Regions from separate parts of the Homo sapiens genome. Here region 2 is linked to region 1. A link means that fine-mapping ties the variant in region 1 to the expression of a gene that starts in the linked region. Tissue or cell type: whole blood. Region 1 holds a variant in brackets; the other region holds the start of a gene. All regions are shown on one strand. Distances are from middle to middle.

Region 1 (10,818 bases):
GCACACGTGTGAGCGCACCTGTGTGTATGTGTGTAAGAAAGAAAGAGAGGTGAGAAACTGGGTGCAGTGGCTCATGCCTGTAATCCCAATACTTTGGGAGGTCGAGGCGGGTACATCACTTGAGGTCAGGAGTTCGAGACCAGCTTGGCCAACATGGTGAAACCCTGTCTCTACTAAAAAAAAAAATACAAAAATCAGCCAGGTGGGGTGGCGGGCACCTGTAATCCCAGCTACTGGGGAAGCTGAGGCAGGAGAATCACTTGAACTTGGGAGGTGGAGGTTGCAGTGAGCCGAGATCGTGCCACTGCACTCCAGCCTGGGTGACAGAGCAAGACCCCGTCTCAAAAAAAAAAAAAAAAAAAAAAGAGAGAGAGGGAGGAGAGAGAAAGAGGTCAAAGAGCTAAGTAATTAAAGAACACACTCAAGCCTTGGTGCTTACAACCAGCAACCCCCAGCCAAGGCCACGCAGATGGGGGAGGTGGAGTGGAGGAATGTGAATTCTGCACATTCTGCAGTCATGGCCACCCCGCCCCCATCCTCATTGTCCAGAAGAAATGGAGGCCATGGTGGACAGGGCTTGCAGCAGCCAGCAGGAGCCCTGGCTGCAGTGAGGTGCCTAGCTAGCTCTCCACCGGTCAACAAGGCAAGAGAGGAGGACAGTGCAGGAGTAGCCCAGAGTTCCAGTGCGACTCAAGTGACAGCAACCACCCAGATTCCTACTCTATGGCAGGCTGGTGAGATTCTCCAAGTTCCTCTCCAGAAGGAAATTGCAATCAGGACCTGATGCCTTCAGCTGATTCTGACCCTGGGGGTAGTGGATTTATCAGGGAAGGACCCCCCAGGAGCAGAAGGCTCAGGTCATGATAGTGACACAGATGACCAAGCCATCTATTCTGAATAGTAGATGAAATGTGTCCTTACAAATACTGCACACTGGAGACATAGAACATAACAGTTGTACACATATTCTCCCTACTCCTTCACAACCTTGGGAAATAGATATTATTTCTATCACTCCCATTTTACACATGAGGAATCAGAGGTTTAGAGGGGTTAAATAAATTGCCGAAGTCACATTTCTTTGATCCCGTAAGGAGTTTTCAGTCCTTCTCCTCTTTGTTCTAATTCTCTGAGGTTAGACCCATTTTCATCCAGCAAGAGCTGGCCAAAGCCTGGTCAGTCCTGTGCATGGACAAGCAGGGCAGCAGGCTGGGAAGAGAAAGCAGCCTGGAGTGGGGCGGATGAGCTGGCTGGAGGGGATGGGGCAGGCTGTATCCCACAGTTCACTGCCAGGGTGACAACAGACACTCAGAGGATCTCTAAGGAGGCTCAAATGTGCTTGAAGGACACAGGGCTTCCTGAAGCTCCCAGGATGCAGGTTTAAATGACAGTTATCCAAATCTCTAAGGAATGGTTGGCTCTGAAGGGCTGGGGAAAAGGGAATCTATAGAAAACTGGACTGTATGCGCTGCATCCCAGATATGTGGTAGGTGTCGTGGCTTTTACATACATTAACAGGTTTTATCATCAAATTTTTTTTTTTTCTTTTGAGACGAAGTCTTGCTCTGTCACCGGGCTGGAGTGCAGTGGTGCGATTTCGGCTCACTGCAACCTCTGCCTCTCTGGTTCAAGTGATTCTCCTGCCTCAGCCTCCCGAGTAGCTAGGACTACAGGTGTGCACAACCACGCCTGGCTAATTTTTGTATTTTTTGTAGAGACGGAGTTTCACCATGTTGGTCAGGATGGTCTGGATCTCCTGACCTGGTGATCCACCCTCCTCAGCCTCCCAATGTGCTGGGATTACAGGCATGAGCCACCACGCGCAGCCTACCACATTCATTTTTAACTGCTGCATAGTGTTCCACTGAACAAACGTGTCTTTTTTTTTCTAATCAGTCCCCTACTAATTAGCTTTTTATCTTTGGTGAGAGAGAAGAAGTAAATGTAGATATCATTCATACTGTTACTAGGGTTTTTCAGTTACAAAAATGCTGCAGTGAGCATCCTTATGCTTACATCTTTGCCTGTATATATGAGTGTCATATAACATCTCTGAATTTTAGTACATTTATTTGAAATGCTTGAAACTAGAAGTGTTTTGGATTTCCATTTTCTTCTGGATTTTGGAATAGTTGCACACTGGTTGCATATCCCAAATCTGAAAATCTGAAATTCTCCAATGAGCATTTCCTTTGAGTGTAATGTGGGTGCTCAAAAAGTTTCAAATTTGGGGGCATTTCAGATTTCAGATTTTTGTATTTGAGATGCTCAACCTATAGGGACATGGCTCCCAGAATAAAGACTACATTTCTCGGCAGTCCTGCATTCAGGTATGACCAAGCAACTAAGTGCTGGTCAGTGGGACATAGCAGAAGCAATGCGTGTGACTCTGGGATTGCGGCTTTACAGGGAAGAAGTGTGGCTGCATACCTTTCCCCATTGGCCCAGGCTGGAGTGTGGATGTGGAGGGGAGCTCTTTTATATTATGCAGATGAGGATAGCAGTCTAGGATAGCAGAGCAACAAAATATGAACCCTGGGCCCACAACAACACAGAATCACACACTCCCACACCAACAGCTGTAGGTTGATTAAGCTGGGCTACTATGTCCAGAAAGAAATATACCTCTGTTGTGTTTAAGCCACTATTATTTGGGTTCTCAATTATGGCAATCAATCCAATACTCTAATTAAAATTAATATATTCACAGGATAAATTCAGAGCAGTGGAATTGCTACATCAAAAAGTATATGCATTAAAAAATTTGATTTCTAATACCAAATTGCCTTTCACAGCTGCTGCACTAATTTAGACTCCCACTAAGAGTACATGATGGCACCTGTTTCGCCAGAGCCTTGCCAACACTGCACATCATCAAGCTTCAAATGTTTGCCCATAGTTGAAAAGCAGCTAATAATTTAAAATTTTATATTAATGTAATTATGATGGAAAGGCAGAGTCTATGCCTATGTTTATTATTTTTTGCATACATTATCTTCCATCCTTATGCCAATTCTATGGCATGTTATTATTATCACCATTTAGTTTACTTCTAAAATGTTAACTGTGCAAGATGGCACAGTGCGTAAGTGACGGAGCCAGCTCTGAATTCAGGTCTGACTCACTCTAAAACCGGAGCTCTTTTATCTGCCTTGCCAGGGTTTCCACCTCCCTATCACCACCTGTATGTGTACTGAACAGGAACATGAGGGCCCAGACAGGCAGATCGGCCTCCATGGCCAGGTCCACCTGGGCCCACTGAAGCATCGATAAATTATGATCATCAGCTCTGACCTCAGGTAGTTGGACTCATGAACTCCTTCTTAAGACAGAGGTAGCTGTGAGGTCTTTTTCTGCTTTTCTCATTGAATGGCTACCAAGCCTGACCAACTTGTAAGCATCTTCAAAAACACTTTTTTCCTTTAGTTGTATTATGTCTAAAACCAGTAGAGAAAATTGCCTTTCAGAATAAAATTTGTAGCATGATCATCAGTAGCCTATATTCTAGGCAGAGAACAGCATCCTGACCAAAAGAAGAGGTCTTTGAGCTTCAATTTCCTCATCTTTATATTGAGAATAATCATCAGCTTTTTATCTTTGGTGAGAGAGAAGAAGTAAATGTAAATGTATGCTTTGTATATAGTAGAAACTCCAAAAATTATACCTATTATTTTTTAATTGTTAAGACTTCTTTCCAATACCCCTGCAGCTCGCAGGTCTATGAAGTACACACATTTATACTGATGTAACTAGGCCTCATTTACAAATTCATTCAGAAAATATGTATTGCTGAGTCTTGACATCTTTGGGCATGACATGAGGATAAGAGTCATAACACCAGCTAACACATGCATAGTGCTTACACCCATCCAGGAACTGTTCTGTCCTTTTCATGTACTGACCCACTTAACCATCACAACCACAACCCTAATCTGGAGGATCCCCATCTTACAGATGGGGGAGTCCGAGTTGAGAGGGACCAGTGAGCCACAACTCTCAGAGCTTAACCCCAGCGGCCTGGGTGAATTTCTTACACCTCCTGTAGCTACACCAGGCTTCTCACCGTTCTCATTGCTGTTCCCAGGTGTTCCTCCCCTTGGAGAATATTCTAGCCACCTGTATTAGCCCATTCCCACATTGCCATAGAGAAATTCCTGAGACTAGGTAATTTATAAAGAAAAGAGGTTTAATTGGCAGGGCTGTGAGCCAATTAAACCTCTTTTCTTTATAAATTACCCAATTAAACAGGAAGCAAAGCAGCTTCTGCTTCTGGGGAAGACTCAGGAAACTTAGAATCATGGCGGAAGGTGAAAGGGTAGCAGCCACATTTTATGTGGATTAAGCAGGAGGAAGAGAGATAGCAGGGAGGTGCTACACACTTTTAAACAACCAGATCTCATGAGAACTCACTCACTATACAGTACCAAGGTGGGGATGCTGCTAAACCATTCATGAGAACTTTGCCCTCATGATCCATCCAATCACCTCCCACCAGGCTCCACTTCCAACGTAGGGGATTACAATTGAATATGAGATTTGGATGGGGACACAGATCCAAACCATATGATTCTGTCCCTGACCCCTCCCAAATCTCATGTTCTCACATTCCAAAACAGAATCATCCCTTCTCAATGGTCCCCAAAGTCTTAACTGTGTCCAGCATTAACTCAAAAGCACAAAGTCCGAGTCTTATCTGAGATAAAGCTAGTCCCTTCCACCTATGAGCCTGTAAAATTAAAAAAAAAAGTTAGTTATTCCCAAGATACAATGAAGGTACAAGCATCGGGTAAATACTCCCATTCCAAAAGGGAGAAATAAGCCAAAAGAAAGGGGCTGCAGGCCACATGCAAGTCTGAAACCCAGCAGGGCAGTCATTAAATCTTAAGCTCCAAAATAATCTCCTTTGACTCCATGTCCCATATCCAGGGCACACTGGATGCAAGGAGTGGTTCCCAAGATCTTGGGCAGCTCCAGCCCTATGGCTTTGCAGGGAATAGCCCCTGTGGCTGCTCTCATTAACTGTTGTTGAGTGCACATTGCTTTTCTAGGTGCATGGTGTAAGTTGTCAGTGGATCTACCATTCTGGGGTCTGGAGGATGGTGGCCCTCTTCTCACAGCTCCAGTAGGCAGTGCCCCAGTGGGGATTCTGTGTGGGGGCTCCAACCCCACCTTTCCCCTCTGCACTGCCCTAGTAGAAATTCTCAGTGAGGGCTCTGCCCCTGCAGCAGGCTTTTGCCTGGACATTCAGGCTTTTCCATACATCCTCTGAAATCTCGGTGGAGGGTCCCAAACCTCAACTCTAGCACTCTGAGTACCCACAGACTTAAGACCATGTGGAAGCTGTGAAGGCTCATAGCTTGCACCTTCTGAAGCAGCAGCCTGAGCTGTACCTGGGCTGCTTTGAGCTAAGGCTGGAGCTAAAGCAGCCAGGATGCAGGGAACAGTGTCTTCAGGCCGCTCATGGTGGCAGGGCCCTGGGCCTGGCACACCAAACCGTTCTGTCCTCCTAGGCCTTCGGGCCTGTGATGGAAGGGGCTGCCATGAAGGTCTGTGAAATGCCTTGGAGGCCCTTTCCCCATTGCCTTGGCTATTCGCTCTTGCTTTCCTTTTAGTAATGCGAATTTTTGCATCTGGCTTGAACTGTTCCTTTGGAAATGGGCTTTTCTTTTCTACCACATGGCCAGGCTGAAAATTTTCCAAACTTTTATGCTCTGCTTCCCTTTTAAATATAAATTCCAGCTTCAAGTTATTTCTTTGCTCGTGCACATGAGCATAGGTTGTTAGAAGCAGCCAGACCACTTGTTGAACAATTTGCTGCTTAGAAAAATTATTCAGCCAGATCCATAAATCATCATTCTCCAGTTCAAAGTTCCACAGATCCATAGGGCAGAGGCATAATGCAGGCAACCTCTTTACTAATGCATAACAAAGGTGACCTTTGCTCCAGTTCCCAATAAGTTCCTCATCTCCATCTGAGACCTCCTCAGCCTGAACTTCACTGTCCATATGACTATCAGCATATTGGTCACAACCATTCAACAAATTTCTAGGAAGTTCCAATTTTTCCCTCATTTTCTTGTCTTCTTCTGAGCCCTCCACACTCTTCCAGCCTCTGCCCATTATCCAGTTCCAAATCCGCTTCCACATTTTCAGGCATTTTTATAGCAATGTCCCATTTCTCAGTAACAATTTTCTGTATTGCCAAGACCAGCTCAGTCATGGGGACCCTAACCCAGTGGTGCTAGAGGAATTAAAGATACACACTCACAGAAATATAGCATGTGGAGTGGGAAATCAGGGGTCTCACAGCCTTCAGAGCTGAGATCCTCGAACAGAGATTTACCCACATATTTATTGACAGCAAGCCAGTGATAAGC[G/A]TTATTTCTATGGATTGTAGATTAACTAAAAGCGTTCCTTACAGAAAATAAAGGGATGGGCCGAAATAAAGGGATGGGCCTGCAACAGGAACATGTCCTTAAGGCACAGATTGCTCATGCTATTGTTTGTGGTTCAGGAACACCTTTAAGCAGTTTTCTGCCCTGGGTTGGCCAGGTGTTCCTTGCTCTCATTCTGGTAAACCCACAACCTTCAGCGTGGGCATCATGGCCATCATGAACATGTCATGGTGCTGCAAAGATTTTGTTTATGGCCAGTTTTGGGGCCAGTTTATGGCCAGATTTGGGGGCCTGTTCCCAACACTGTATTAGTTCGTTCTCGCATGACTATAAAGAAATAACTGAGACTGATAATTTATAAAGAAAAGAGGTTTCATTGGCTCACAGTTCTACAGGTTATACAGGAAGCACAGTGGCTTCTGCTTCTGGGGAGGCCTCAGGAAACTTAGAATCATGGCGGAAGGTGAAGGGGAAGCCGACACGTCTTACATGGATGAAGCAGGAGGAAGTCGGGGGGCAGGTGCTGCACACTTTTAAACAACCAGATCTCGTGAGAACTCACTTGCTATACAGTACCAAGGGGGGGTGATGGTGCTAAACCATTCATGAGAATTCTGCCCCCATGATCCAATCACTTCCCATCAAGCCTCACACTGGGCATTACAATTGAACATGAGTTTGGATGGGGACACAGATCCAAACCATATCACTGCCATTTCCTTCCTGGTGCACCTCCAGCATCACCTTCTCTTCCCTCCCTTTGTATTGTTTCCTACCCTACTCCTGCCTCCCTCCAAGCCTTCTCAATTCCCTGCTCTATTGTAGGTCTTCACTGAGACCTGTGACAGCCCTCAAGGGCAGGGATGTGTCTGATTCATCTACGCATCTTGGGCCTGGTCTATCCAGGCAGAGGCAGCCTTTCCAGAGAAGAACTGAGGGAACAAGAACTCAAAGGAACAGACCAGGAGCTCCCTGGCTGAATGGAAGTAGGGAGAATTTTACAATAGTGTCTGGATTCTTAGAGTACTGGCCCATCTCTGTACTTCTTAGAGTATAGGAGAGAAGAGTTGACATCCAGAAAGCCATGAGACCTCATTGAAACAGCAGGGAAATCTGCCATTTGGAAGGCATGGCAGGAACATCTCCTGCCCTGACTCCCTTTTCTGAGACAGAGAGAAGCACTCACAGGAACATCTGCCTACACAGCTTATGGGAGCAACCACTTCCTGTAGACCCTGGTGAGGGCTGGCTGGGGAGAAGAGGAGGGCGGCAGCAGCCCAGCATGTTGCCAGGTGGCTAAACCTCAAGGACAGTATGTGCCCAGTGGATCCCTACGCTGATGTCTCCAGGCTGGGTTTAGGCTGGCCCCTTCTCTTGCGTTTGGGCTTTGTATTGTGGGAGAAGTTTCCCATAGATTGTGTCCTAAGACAAGAGAGTCAGGTCAGGAGAAAGACTTCCTGAGGCTCCCTGAACCTAAGCACCAGGTGCAGGGGCCCAAGGCTTCATGGCTGTGGGGTGCCACGTACCCGCTTTGGCATGTCCAGGAGAACTAAAATCCATCCAATACAAAAAGGGAAAAGTCCAGGGGATTTCCATCAGACAAGAAATCATAAAGTTGTACATGTTTTGCCTGACTTGAACCCAGTTAGATTTCTAGGCGGACCTGGGGAAGAAGTCAGTGGGCCAGAAGGCCACTTTCTTATGGGACTTTGGCCTCTGACTATTGCCGGCAGCACTGGACCAGGAATGTCTTGAGGATGGGGATGGAGTATGACTCTTTTTTGCATCCCTAGCCATTAGCACAATCCATGACATACACTGAGTTATCAATAAGTGTAGGGTCCAGTCCCACAGGGTTGATGGGCTTTCTTCCCATGTGCAGAGACGAGAGAGTGTAGAAATAAAGACACAAGACAAAGAGGTAAAAGAAAAGACAGCTGGACCTGGGGGACCACTACCACCAAGACGCAGAGATCAGTAGTGGCCCCAAATGCCAGGCTGCGCTGATATTTATTGGATACAAGACAAAGGGGCAGGGTAAGGAGTGTGAGCCATCTCCAATGATAGGTAAGGTCACGTGGGTCACATGTCCACTGGACAGGGGGCCCTTCCCTGCCTGGCAGCCGAGGCAGAGAGAGAGAGAGGAGAGAGAGAGACAGCTTATGCCATTATTTCTGCTTATCAGAGACTTTTAGTAGTTTCACTAATTTGCTACTGCTATCTAAAAGGCAGAGCCAGGTGTACAGGATGGAACATGAAGGTGGACTAGGAGCATGACCACTGAAGCACAGCATCACAGGGAGACTGTTAGGCCTCTGGATAACTGCAGGCGGGCCTGACTGATGTCAGGCCCTCCACAAGAGGTGGAGGAGTAGAGTCTTCTCTAAACTCCCCCAGGGAAAGGGAGACTCCCTTTCCCAGTCTGCTAAGTAGCAGATGTTTTTCCTTGACACTGATGCTACCGCTAGACCACGGTCCGCTTGGCAACGGGTGTCTTCCCAGATGCTGGCGTTACCGCTAGACCAAGGAGCCCTCTGGTGACCCTGTCTGGGCATAACAGAAGGCTCACACTCTTGTCTTCTGGTCACTTCTCACTATGTCCCCTCAGTTCCTATCTCTGTGTGGCCTGGTTTTTCCTAGGTTATGATTGTAGAGCAAGGATTATTATAATATTGGAATAAAGAATTATTGCTACAAATTAATGATTGTTATTCATATATAATCATATCTAAGATCTATATCTACTATAACTATTCTTATTTTATATATTTTATTATACTGGAACAGCTCATACCCTCAGTCTCCTGCCTTGGCACCTGGGTGGCTTGCCGCCCACAAATAAGTTTTTATTGATTGAATTAATGAATAGAAGGATAAATAGATAAAAATGAATGAAATGAAGATTAATAATGGATCTTAATGATTCTAGTTTAAAATGCCAGTCATTAGCTAGACCACCCCTCCCACCACCACCACCCAGTAACTAACATCATCTTCTTTCCCAATAATTGGACATGCTTTGTGATAACTTAGGTCACACCTGCCAAGATATCCCAAATTTTACCTACCAAGACTAGAGAACAAGAAAATTTCCATGTGTGCTTCCAGGATAAAATCATTAGACCTTATTAGTTGAAAGACTTTGAAGAACACTGTAACTTCAGTTTCCCAATCTGTAAAATGGGGGTAAAAAGCATAACTATCTCCAATTGTGTCCTGAATTAAATGAGATAATTCATGTAAAGCACTGAGCTGAGTTCAGGGCATCTATTAAATTCTTAATAAGTGCTAGCATCATTATTACCATCATTCCTGGTAGTCCAGGATACCTTTTCTTTTCTTTTCTATTTTTTGCTACAGGGCCACCCACTCAGTCTGCTCCCCAGGCTGGAATGCAGTGCACAATCATAGCTCACTGTAACCTTGAACTCCTGGGCTCAAGCAATCCTCCCACCTCAGCCTCCTGAGTAGCTGGGACTACAAGCACGAGCTACCATGCTTGGCTAATTTTGAAATTTTTTTGTAGAGACTGGGTCTCATTTTTGTTGCCCAGGCTGGTCTCAAACTTATGGCCTCAAGCAATCCTCCTGTCTCAGCCTCCCAAAGTGCTAGAATTGCAGGCATCTACACTGCACCCGGTCTCAGGATACTTTTTCAATGGACTTTAATTCCTTCATACTTTCTGTTTTATAATATTTTGGAGAGTGGGATTTCCCACCCTCAATGTTATTCTTGCCTGCCAAGCACAGGTGTTCTGTCTTTGAAAAGGACAGAGGCTTCTCTTTGAAAGACAGAGCCCCAGGACGGTGGTGGATGCTGCCGCCTTCGGAATATGGTCTCCCCAGAGCAAGCTGGACTGTGAAGTCTGCCAGCCCCAGAGGGACTGAGCAGGAACTAGGTTGAGCAATGGCCTGGTGGCCACTCTGGATCTCCACACTCCCGTCCCGCCACCCCCACCTGCAACAGAGGGCACTCCTCACTCCTCTGGTCTGGGGCTCCCCAGGACAGCTCCAGAGGGCAGGTGCTCTCACTCTGCCCACAAGACTGCTGAACACTGTTAATTTCAGAGCCATAGGGTGGATTCTTTTTCAGGTTGTCAGCAGCATCTATCCCCAACACAGATCCCCTGTCGGCTCCAGCAGGCCTCATTCTGTGAAAGGAAATGGGAGACTCAGGGTCAAATCATTGGAAAAGACAGGAGTTCAGGCCTTGACAGAGCAAGAAAGAGGTCAAAGCCTGAGTTACTAGCTCTACTGGGCTTAATTTCCACATAGGAAGGTAAGGCAAACACAGCAGTGTAGCACGTTGTTGCTGAACGGAACTCAGGTTGATCTGGTCTGACTTTTCCATTGTTCAGTTGAGGACACCAAGAGGCTTGGTAGCCCTGCCCAAAGTCACAGAGAGAGCTTGGGCTGAGCCTGGA
Region 2 (10,818 bases), 170 kb before region 1:
TCAGGAGTTTGAGACCAGCCTGGCCAACATGGCGAAACCCTGCCTCTACTAAAAATATAAAAATCAGCCAGGTGTGGCGGCGTGTGCCTGTAATCCCAGCTACTCGGGAGGCTGAGGCAGGAGAATCGCTTGAACCCAGGAGGCAGAGGTTGTAGTGAGCCGAGGTCATGCCACTGCACTCCAGCCTGGGTGACACAGCGAGACTCCATCTCAAAAAAAAAAAAAAAGAAGCAAGTCGCTGAACCACAAAACCATCAATGACTATACCTGTTCATAGCTTTGGTAAAAGGCTTTGTGGAAAAAGTAGAAAGAGAAAAGAAATAACCACAATTAACTTTCATATCTGTGAAATTCATTTAACCTAGACCTGCTCTGTGGGAGGAAAGAGGAAAAAAGGAATCCAATGGCAGCAGCACTGGCTGTCAGTTCTGCTCAAGTTGCCTTTGAGTGACCCCCGAGTTTGTGTGAACCAGCAATTCTCCCTCCCCAAGCTGGCATTCATAACAAGCACACATTCTCCTGCCTTTCCTGAATTGGAAAAAGGGAAATCTAACATTATGTAATTGCCTGCTTCCCGCAATTTCAACTTAGGCATACTAAATCCTAATTAGAGGGAGAACTTAGTGCAACATGACAAGCAACAAATTGGAAATCTACAGGTTGAAATTTCTCATCCCAGACTCCAGAGGCAAAGAGAAATGGCTTCGCCTGACTTTGTGGCACACCCACCAATGCACTACTACTTACTACGGGCCAGCTAAAGCAGCTCCTGACATCCCTCCATGTCATTTTGGTGTCATCTCTCTATGCCTTTAAGAAAACACTCTGTTCTATTTGCAAATGGGGTTATCTTACTCTCTCCAGGCCAGAATAAAAGGAGAAAATGGTTGTTGACTGGTGAACATTACCTACCATTAAAAGATCTGCCCTGATGGTTTTTTGTACCCTCATGATCACAAACCAAATCACTGTGTTGCTCTGTCCCTTATGCAAATCATCCATGTTTAAAAGACCCAGAAGCCACAAATCTTTCCCATGCTTCTAAGACTCACTCCAGAGCTCATCAACAGTCCACTGAATAAAAATAAATGAGCTATCATTTAAGAATAATTAACTTAAATATAACCTTTGAAAGCAAGGTGTCATCAAAGCATGTGGGTTTTGTTTTTGTTTTTGATTAGCTAGGCATAGAAAAAAACTAAAAGCAAAAATTCAATGAGGCCAATTGATTTCCCATACCAAAAAAGTAGAAGTGCAGCAGATAGAAGGTCAGATTGTCAGTCTCAAGGGATAGTGGAACACCCTTATTTTACTGCGTCTGTCTGTAGAATAAGACCCAAACTTCTGTGTGAGCAATGGCAGAATACCACAATGCTTATCTCTCCCGGAAGAAGGAAACCCCCTCACCTCAAGGGCATTCACCCAACCAGCAGGGAAGTTTCTTCTCTGCTGGCTCAGATTACTCCACTGGAAGGTAGGGTGGCGCAACATAAATCAGTCCCATTTTCAACAGGAAGCTCCTACACGTTCCTGTTTTATGTCCTGTTTTATCTCTCCACCTAACACCCCCAGCCCCAATCTCTGGTTACCCTTACATGTCGCTGAGAAAAAAGGTCTAAAATTTAGTTGGCCATGGTCCAGAAACAAGGATGGTACACCTAATTTCTTCCGCAAATGGAAATGAGTTTAAAAAGAGAAGAAAAAGATGAACCAAAATAAACTGAGTTTAGCTTTTCTAAAGAGCTAAAGAGTACATTATGCTCTGTGCAAATAAAGATTTCTTTAAAAATGAAACAAAACAAAAAAGCCTACAGGCTCTACTATGTAGAAACTTTAACTCATATTTTCTTTTTCTGTAACTTTGTCATTTAATTATGAAGCTCGGTTACCAATGTTGTTTTCATAGCTTTACAACCTCACCACAGATCGTTCGTTTCCTTAAGTTTTGCATCTCCTCATTTTGGATATTTAATAAATACTGAACTCTTAAGTGGGGGGAGAAAGTAGTAAAATTTTAACATAACAGGCTCTAAGGTAGGAAAAAAAGAAAAGAAACGAGTGCAATTAAATATGGACACCTGTCTTCCAATCACTGCCTAGTCATTAACCAGTTCTATAACCTTCAACAAATCACTTCAACTTTCTGGGCTTCAGTTTCCTCATACGTAAAATGGGAAACATGAGCCAAATGAGTCAAAATCCCTCCTAGTTCCAACAATCCATGAATCTGTCCAACAAAAAGTAAGAAAACCCTATTACAAATAAGACTTTATAGTTTACAAAGTACTTTCATACATGTATTCTCATCAATTTTTGTAGCTCATCTGTGAAGCAAGTCTTGAGCCCATCTCCGCAGGAAACAACAGTAAAGTTCAGAAAGAAGTTCAATTATTTTTCAATATCTCACAACGAAAATGGCAGGGCAGGTATTTGAAACCCAGACCTTCTGAGGACAAATTCTAGGTTACATTATTTCAAAATGTTAAAATATATTAAAATTCAAAAATAATTGCCTATTATGTATAACCTTTACGAGGGCATCAGGGTACCATAACTCCATGCCAGAAAATATTACTACAAATGGTCCCACTGGACTACAAGTTCCATGTGGCCAGGTACACTCTTGCTCATCACTGTAATCACAGAAACCAAAAGTGCACCTGCCAGATAGCAGCATTCAATAAATATTGCTTGACTCACCACTCAAAAGGTTAGGAATATAGGGATGCTATGGGGAAAAAAAGAAATTTCTGAATTTATTTTCAGATTTGAACTTCCATGATTTGATCCAAAGGGGAAAAAAAAAAGTGTGCTCTATCAGCGCTCTAGTTCTTTATTATGGGAATGAGTCTATTTGTCTTCCATAGAGAAAATCTAATATGGTCAGTGAACCAAAAGGCTCAAATCTGAGATGTCAACAAAAAATCTTCAGGATATTCATACTTCATTTGTGCACTGATACGGACCAATAACAATGATAATACAACGGTAAGGACTGATAAGAGGCACATAGTCACATTATTAATCATGACAAACTTTCCATCAAATTCCACTCTCATACCATTTCAGCTCTCCTCATGCTCCCATTTCACAGCTCAAACAGATTTTTAAAAAAAGAAAAACAGTCATTTATCTAAAAATTCAGATTGCAACTTAAGATAGAACATATATACATCACAACTCAACCAAGATCCCCCCGAAGTCTACAAAACTGCTAATCTCAAGCAATCTTCAATCTATGACTTCAATAAACTCACTAGAAAGTGTTTTTTAAAAGTTCCTAAACAATGAAGATGGGGGCACTATACCAAAATTACACACATACTTCAAAGCAAAAGCAAAGCAAATGCAGAAGCCTGAAAATACTAGTGTAAGGACAGAGACAAAAGAAGAGTTAAATGAATCTCAGTACAAAGTATCAGAGAGGTGCTTTGCAATTATTACCTGGAGTTGAAGTCAACCTTGCCATAGACTCCTCCAATGAAATCACAACTATCACTGACTGATACTTCAGATTTTAAAAGTTCACTGTACCAGAATTGCAATTTCAAACTCGAGGAGCAGAAGCAGGAACTGCAGAGAAGCTAACAACAGCAACACCTACTGACTGTCTCAAGCCACTCACCAAACTTGTTCACTCAGTCAACTAGAAAAATCAAATGACAGTCAACTTCAAGAGTCCTTTACTTAAGCATTAATAAGAAAATTAGTTGTCAGAGACATAAAGCCATTCATCCCCCAAATCTCTTATTTTGCCTCTAACCATTTATGTGGAAACAATCACTCATCATTTTAAATGCACTGTTAATTGTTAATGCTTTAGCATAATTGATTCCATGGGAAAAATGTTTTAATATTAATATTGTAGTTAATAACTGGGATGTCATCTAATAGTTGGACACATCGGTGGCCATAATAAATTAGCTGAGACCTACTGTTATTACCACTGTTCCATATTATCCTCTTTTTTAAATCCTGGTAAAGGTAGCTTAATTGCAGCTTTCAAAAAACGAAGAGAAAAATGACAGTCGTTAAATCAGGATTATATAGAAAACTAATATTATTACTAAACTGGCTGCAGAATTCAGTATGATCTAACCTTGCACGTTTCCAAAAGATTCAGTCAGAGAATCTTTGCCTTGGACGGATACTCCATAGGAGAAAACAGGAGAAAGTTGACACTTAACTCCCACAGAGTACCAGCATAAAGACAATGGCTTTAAGAGTCTGACTCAGAGTTTCAACATGAAAGGTTTGCTTTATAGAGGAAACGCCAATCCCAGTCCATCCAGATAGACCTGGAACCTGATGAAAGTCGACACCTTTATTCTGAAATTTGCATCACATCGCTGGCTCCAGTTTAGAAACATGATCGTTTCACAGGTAGTATGCATTTCAGCGAATGCTGCCTCTAAACTACCCGTCAGGAAAAATAAAATCTATAAGGTAATCGTAGTCTAGGAGCCATCAATCCCCAAATGCTTCTCTTAGAAAACGAATGCCAACAATTTAGCTAAACATCTTCCTTGGAAGTGAGCCATTTCCCATGTCTCTCTGTTCTCCAAACCGCGATGAAATTTCAACCTGCCCAACACGATTACTGGTCCACCTAGAAATGCCGTGGAGCGATTTAAGAGCCTCGGAAATTTCCTTTAAGGTCAGGAGAGAAGCTGGTAACAGATGGGGCGAAGGAGGAAAAGTTCTTTTTGCGGCACCCTCACGCCTTCCCAGCCCTTTCGCGGTTTACTCGCTCCCCGGAAAGCAGGTTAGAGCATCCCAAAATTTCATGTCCCCAAGACCCCCAAAGGGGAAATTAACCACCCTCGGGCACCGAGCTGTTCGTCTCCATTTCCCACAACTCAACCAACTCGGCCTGCCTACTCCAGCTCAGGCTGCAAAGCGCTCACCCAGGTGACTGGAGGGGAAGGGTCGCCAGGTGGCGACCAGCTCAGCGGGGTGGACGCAACCGCCCGGACCGGGACGCGGGTCTCCTGGCCTCCCGCAGAGACGCCTGCCCAGTAGTTGTGCAGATTCGGGTTCTGGGGTGCGTGCGCGCGCGCCGGGCGCGGTGAAGCCGGACTCGCCCCCGCCGGGCTAAGCTACCAGCAAGCCACCAAATCGAAAATCAAACTTTAACCGGCCTCCTGGGGTCCTGCTCCGGGCCCTGGACCCCAACCCCGGCCAGAAACAGGGCAGGGGGCTGTCAGCCGTCCTGCACCCCCGCTCCCCCCAGGACCCGGGCGCGGGGACCACTTACCGCTCGGCCCGGCCTCCCGGTGCCGCCGCGCGTCCCGGGCGCGTCCGCCGCGCGCTCTCCCTGGGGAGAAAGAGAAACCGTGTAGACGGCCGGCGCGCGCTCACTCGCCGCCTCCTCTGCGGAGAGCGGCGAGGCCGGCCCGAGGCGGGCGCCGAGCGCGGAGCGGAGGGGGGCCCGAGGGAGGCGGGGGTGGAATCAGCCCAATTCCCGAGGCTGGCTCCGAGGGGGACCCGGAATACAGGCTGGCGGGGGGCCGGCGGGGGCCGAGCTCCCGGAGGAGGGGAAGGCGGAGGTGGCCCCGTCCTTGGGCATCAACTATTGTCTAGGCGCCCGGGCCCCCGCTCGCGCCGTCCCCGAGGCTCAGCGCCCCCATCCCGCCCGCCAGCAGAAAGAACTGAGGGGGCGGCCAGTACGGGAAGCAAGTGCGGGGGTCCGGGCTCCGAAGGTCCAAGGTGGGCGCGAGGTTGCCGGGGGGGGGATGAGGAGGTGCGTACCGCATGGGGGAGGGGACAGGTAAGTGCGGACGGGGGCGGGAAGGCCCCAACGACCGGTGGGGGAGGAAATGGGGAGGGAGCCACAGAGGCGGGAGGGAATGGAGTGGCTGCGGGGGCGGCCTCTGGGGCCCAGACCTGGCCCTCCCCGGGGACCCTCCAGCCGGGGACTCGGCGCTGCACTGACTTTTCGCTCACTCGCTCACGCACGCACTGAACTCGCTCACAAAGTTGCCGGCAGTGGCGGCGCCTCACTCGCCCTTCCCCTCCCCGCCCCGCCTCCCGCCCCATTCCTTCCCCTCCTTCACTCCTCCCTCTCCCCCAAGTCTCGGGTGAGATCACCACGGAGCGGCTTAGCGCGGCGCACAAGTCTCGCGAGAGAAGCGGCGGCTGGGCCCTGCAGGCGGAGGAAGTGGAAAAAGTCGCGGGAGGGTAGGGGACCGCGGAACTTCTGGTTGCTATGACGACGGCAAAGCCCTGGATTCCTGTCTCCTGCGGAGAGCAGAGGCTGCAAACGTGGGTGCAGTTTTCAACCTGCCCGGCGCACTGGCGGTGGGGAAAGCTAGGGGTGGTTGCGGAAGGATAATTTTTAAGCCGATTCAAGAGGGCATCTCGAGAGGACCACAGTCATGATATCTGGCCAAATTTGGCAAATGAGACTAATGTATTAAGAGGTTCTGGGACAGGTTTCTGCCTTTCTAGGCAGCACATATCTGCACCCCAAATTTCTACTATATATTCAGTTTTTCGGCCTTCTCTTTCAATCTAATTCCTCCATCCCCACACTCCCCATGCTGCCTCCCTCCTCCTCTTCTCAACTCGCAAACACACGCAGACTGGGCTCCTTCAGGAACTGGCTCATTCATCTCTGTATTCTCAGCGCCTCTATAGGCTTGGTCCATACTACATATTGGCCACTTTTTTGACAAGTTGAACGCAACAGTCCATGCCTGTCCTCAGTACTTGCCTTTGGCCCTAACCTAGAGAGTTCAGTCAAGTTTGGACTCTATCAAGCTACCCTCCCATTTCTGTTAACACCTTGTCTTTTTCAATGGTAATAATCTCTGCTTTCTCCATATTTTTCTCGTAAAAACCCTATTCACCATGGTGAGGGGAACTTTTTTTTTAATCATTAGGCATCCGCAGACGCCTTTATACGTACTCCAAAATGCTAGTAAGGATGAAGATGAACTCTCCTCAGCCCGTGTCTTTTAACTGTAGAAACTTTTCTGAGGTGAGGGTTATTATATACTCACTGCCTAAGTAAAATGGATATTATGAATAGAAGTTAAACTTTAGATTTCAAAATGAATGAGTAAAAATAGATACCATTGTATGTGGATTATATCTCAATTTTTAAAATTCCTATCCATGAACATGGGGAAACCATTATTTAACTCAGTCCCACAGAACTAGAAACCTAAAGCATAACCTAAGCATATGAGGACTAGGCAGTCAAAACTTGTAAGTCACTTGCAAGTTTAAATCCTGTCAATGAAAGTTTGTGTATTAGAAACCTAAGTGATACTAGACAAAGTCAGCAAACTAGGGTTTACGTTTTTCTGTGCCACTAATAATTGAGTCTCCTTGAGAAGTTATTTAATCTCTCTGATTCTTCATCTGTGGGGGGTACCCCACATGTTAGGTTATTACAGCTTTAAAATTCTATAGCTGGCCGGCATGGTGGCTCACATGCATAATCCCAGCACTTTGGGAGGCCCAGGTGGGAAGACTGCTTGAAGCCAGGAGTTTGAGACTATCCTGGGCAACATAGAGAGACCCTGTATCTACAAAAATAAAAAATATTAGCTAGGTATACTGACATGCACCTGTAGTCCCAGCTATTCAGGAGGCCGAGGCTTGAGAATCACTTGAGCCCAGGAGTTAAAGGCTGCAGTGACCTCTGATCACACCACTGCACTCCAGCCTGAGCAACACAGTGAGATCCTGCATCTAAATATATATACACATATGTATGTGTGAGTATATATATATATATATATATATATATAATTTAATATAAGAGCTCTTAGACCTATAAAATTTTCCAATAAATAACAAATCTTCCTTTTACAGCAAATGATAAAAAAAGTTTCATCTTATAGTAGGTCAGTTTCACAAAGAGTAGCTATATGTTGACAATTTTCTTTAAATGTTGACAATTTTATTTTAAAATTTATCTTGTCCCAACTACAAAAACAACAAAAATATTGACCATGTTACAGTAATTTCAAAGGTAATCTATAGTTCATGATTTGCTTTTACACTAACTCAAAGCAGATTCCTTGTTATTTAATAAATACTCTAATTAAAACCAAAGACCCAAACTAAATACATCCATACTCCCAAAATAACTATAAGGAAAGAGGGAGGGAGGGAGGAAGGAAAGGAAGGAAGGAAGGAAGGAAGGAAGGAAGGAAGGAAGGAAGGAAGGAGCGAAGACTAGATCTGTGGAAGGAAGGAAGGGAGGGAGGGAGGAGGGGAAGGACGGAGGGCCTCAGATTCATTTACTGGTGTGTTTAATATCACATTTTCACAAAGAAACACAATGGAACATCACCATCAGTCCTGTGAATCTGTTTTAAGGAACCATTTTTCATAACATTGCAAAATATTATAAATCAGTTGTTGCTCATTTGTTCTGGCTTAGCTTTTAACATAATTTTGCCCTTAAAAGATGGCTGCCAATCTACATCCACCAACGCAGTACAATTTCAGGACCATCTGTTTTATGACTCCCAGATAGCCATTTGAAATAATTGACCCAAATGCTAGCCAAATCTATTAACATTCTTCAGTGCTTCATATAAGGCTCAAGAGATGGGTGTTGGCCTCAAATTACAAAAATAACCTCCCTAATCTTCAGACATAGTAAAATAGTAGAAATTGTCCCAGGGATCTAAAACTGCTTTTTCAAGGCCCTGGGCTACTATTTATCCCTCACTGATGGCAGAACTTTCATCCGTGTTTCTAAAGGAGATAAAAAGTGAAAGCTACCAAAGCCTAGTTTCCAACTGCACATTCTCTAGGTCAGTCACTCCTGCTGTATCTTCCTGACCTTCCTAGGTTTCAAAATAGCAGATGTCAGGCAGCAGAAGAGGGAAATGCGGAATGGAGAGTTTGCCAAGAGCACAGACTAGATCTCAGTCCACTTCCTGTCCACTGTCTTGGCTCCTCTACCCATCTCTGCTCAACCCCTTGCCTTTGCCCTCCAACACAAAGGATATGTAACCTTTCTAGTGATAAGAACATCTAGTCATTTGCTATGTTGTTCCCTCCCTATTTGCTTCTTATTTCGTTAAAACCCAGGTGAATTCATTTCCCTCTGGTTATTTACCTCTACTCAACAAAACACCCTAATGTATAGTGTATACCAAATATAGAATGAATTTTGACACAGAGGCCTACCATACAAATTTTATGTATTTTTTAATATTATAAACACTGACTCACATTTGCATGTTTTACATTTAAAATCTGATTTAACTGGCCTATTCAGAACTCCAGTAGCTGTACATCTGCAGGGCATTATTCTAAGTGATATTTAGAAAGATTACTCTAAATCATTACAAAGGTCCAAAGTGCCCTCAAAATTATTCAGGATTAAATGATATCCCATGTTGTTTTAATTTTAGGGTGTTATTATTTTAGCCTTATTGATGTAACTCTGTTTACATGAATACTGGATTCCTTAGCAAATGCCCCTTCTCTCATTTACATAGTAGTATTCATTACAAGTTTAAAACACCAACTACTTTATAACGTTGTTATAAATAATTATAACGTTCTGTTAATCAATTAACAGCAAAACTACTATACTTCCCTGTGCTCTTCCCTCCTCTTTAAAGGACTGTTTCACATCTTCTCCTCCTTAATCAAACCTCTGCCTAGTACTTCTAGCTAATGGCCTTGCTCCCTCTTTTGTTGGTAAAATAGAAATAATCAGAAGAGAACTGAACACACATACCCTCTCTATCACTCTTGTCTACCAACCTGCCTGCATCTGTCTGCATATACTCCTCTGTCCTTCCTGTCATTTATGAACTCTTGGTGCTCTTAGCCAAGATTAGCCTCGGTCTGTGCATTAGTGCCATCACCTCTAACTCAGGGACATTGATTCAGCAACTGTCCCCACTCTCTCTTGAATCAGCAAATTTTCCTTCTCTACTGCTTCACTTCTAAGGGCTTACAAGCATACTGGAATATCTGCCGTGGTAAAAACTAAAATGCTTCCTAAATTTTATGTCTCCCCCTGCTTCACTTTATAACTGGAATCTTCAAAAGGCTCTTCCATGCTTGGTGTCTTCAATTCCTATCCTTCCCTTCCCATGAATCCACTCTGAGCAGCCTTTCACCCCCACTACTCCACAGCAACAGGTCTTCTCAGGGGCATCAGTGACTGCCTTATTGCTAAATCTGGTGCTCAACTTCCAAGCTCACCTGGCTGGAGCCCTCAGCAGCAGGGAAGAGGTCAACCATGCTGGTTCTTGAAATGTTTTCTTCCCTTGGCTTCTGAGCCAAGAGTCTATCCTAGTTCTTATCCTACCTTTCTGGTCTTTTTAGTCTTGAACCTCTCAACATAGGAGGCTCCAGGACTCAGACTTTGGACATCTCTTTATGGTCTCTTTTCACTCTGTGGTGAGCTCACCAGTCTGATAGTTTTAAATACCATCTATACATTAAATACTCCCAAACTTACACCTCCAGGCTAGTCATCTCCCCCATCTCCAGATTTGTACATCCATCTGCTACTCAACATCTGCAATTGATTATGTACTAGGTATTTCAAATTTCACATGTTTAAAACTGATGAGCTCCAAATATTCCCCCAAAAACCAGTGCCCTCCTGAACTCCAGATATCCCTCTCAAAACCGGTTCCCTCTGGGAGGCTGAGGTAGGTGGATCATGAGGTCAAGAGATCGAGTCCATCCTGGCCAACATGGTGAAACCCCATCTTTACTAAAAATACAAAAATTAGCTAGGCATGGTGGCGCGTGCCTGTAGTCGCAGCTACTCAGAAGGCTGAGGCAGGAAAATCACTTGAACCTGGGAGACAGAGGTTGCAGTGA

Evidence for each region. PIP is the estimated chance that this variant, and not a neighbour inherited with it, causes the effect.
Region 2: it holds the start of SIPA1L1, and the variant in region 1 is fine-mapped to the expression of SIPA1L1 in whole blood (TOPMed, PIP above 0.99).

Annotation. Positions count from the first base shown.
Region 1 is chr14:71,145,632-71,156,449 of GRCh38, reverse strand. No RefSeq gene overlaps it. Among named protein-coding and RNA genes, the nearest start is that of SIPA1L1, 170 kb to the left of the region's middle. The variant G/A (reference allele first, on the strand shown) is at 6,378.
Region 2 is chr14:71,315,621-71,326,438 of GRCh38, reverse strand. SIPA1L1 (signal induced proliferation associated 1 like 1) reads right to left here and starts at 5,963. Exons shown (of 24, transcript NM_001386936.1): 1 at 5,936-5,963; 2 at 5,258-5,317. It overlaps SIPA1L1-AS1 (SIPA1L1 antisense RNA 1), which reads left to right and starts at 4,591. Exons shown (of 4, transcript NR_184180.1): 1 at 4,591-4,765. RefSeq lists enhancers at 1,338-1,637, 6,325-6,484 and a silencer at 5,045-6,064.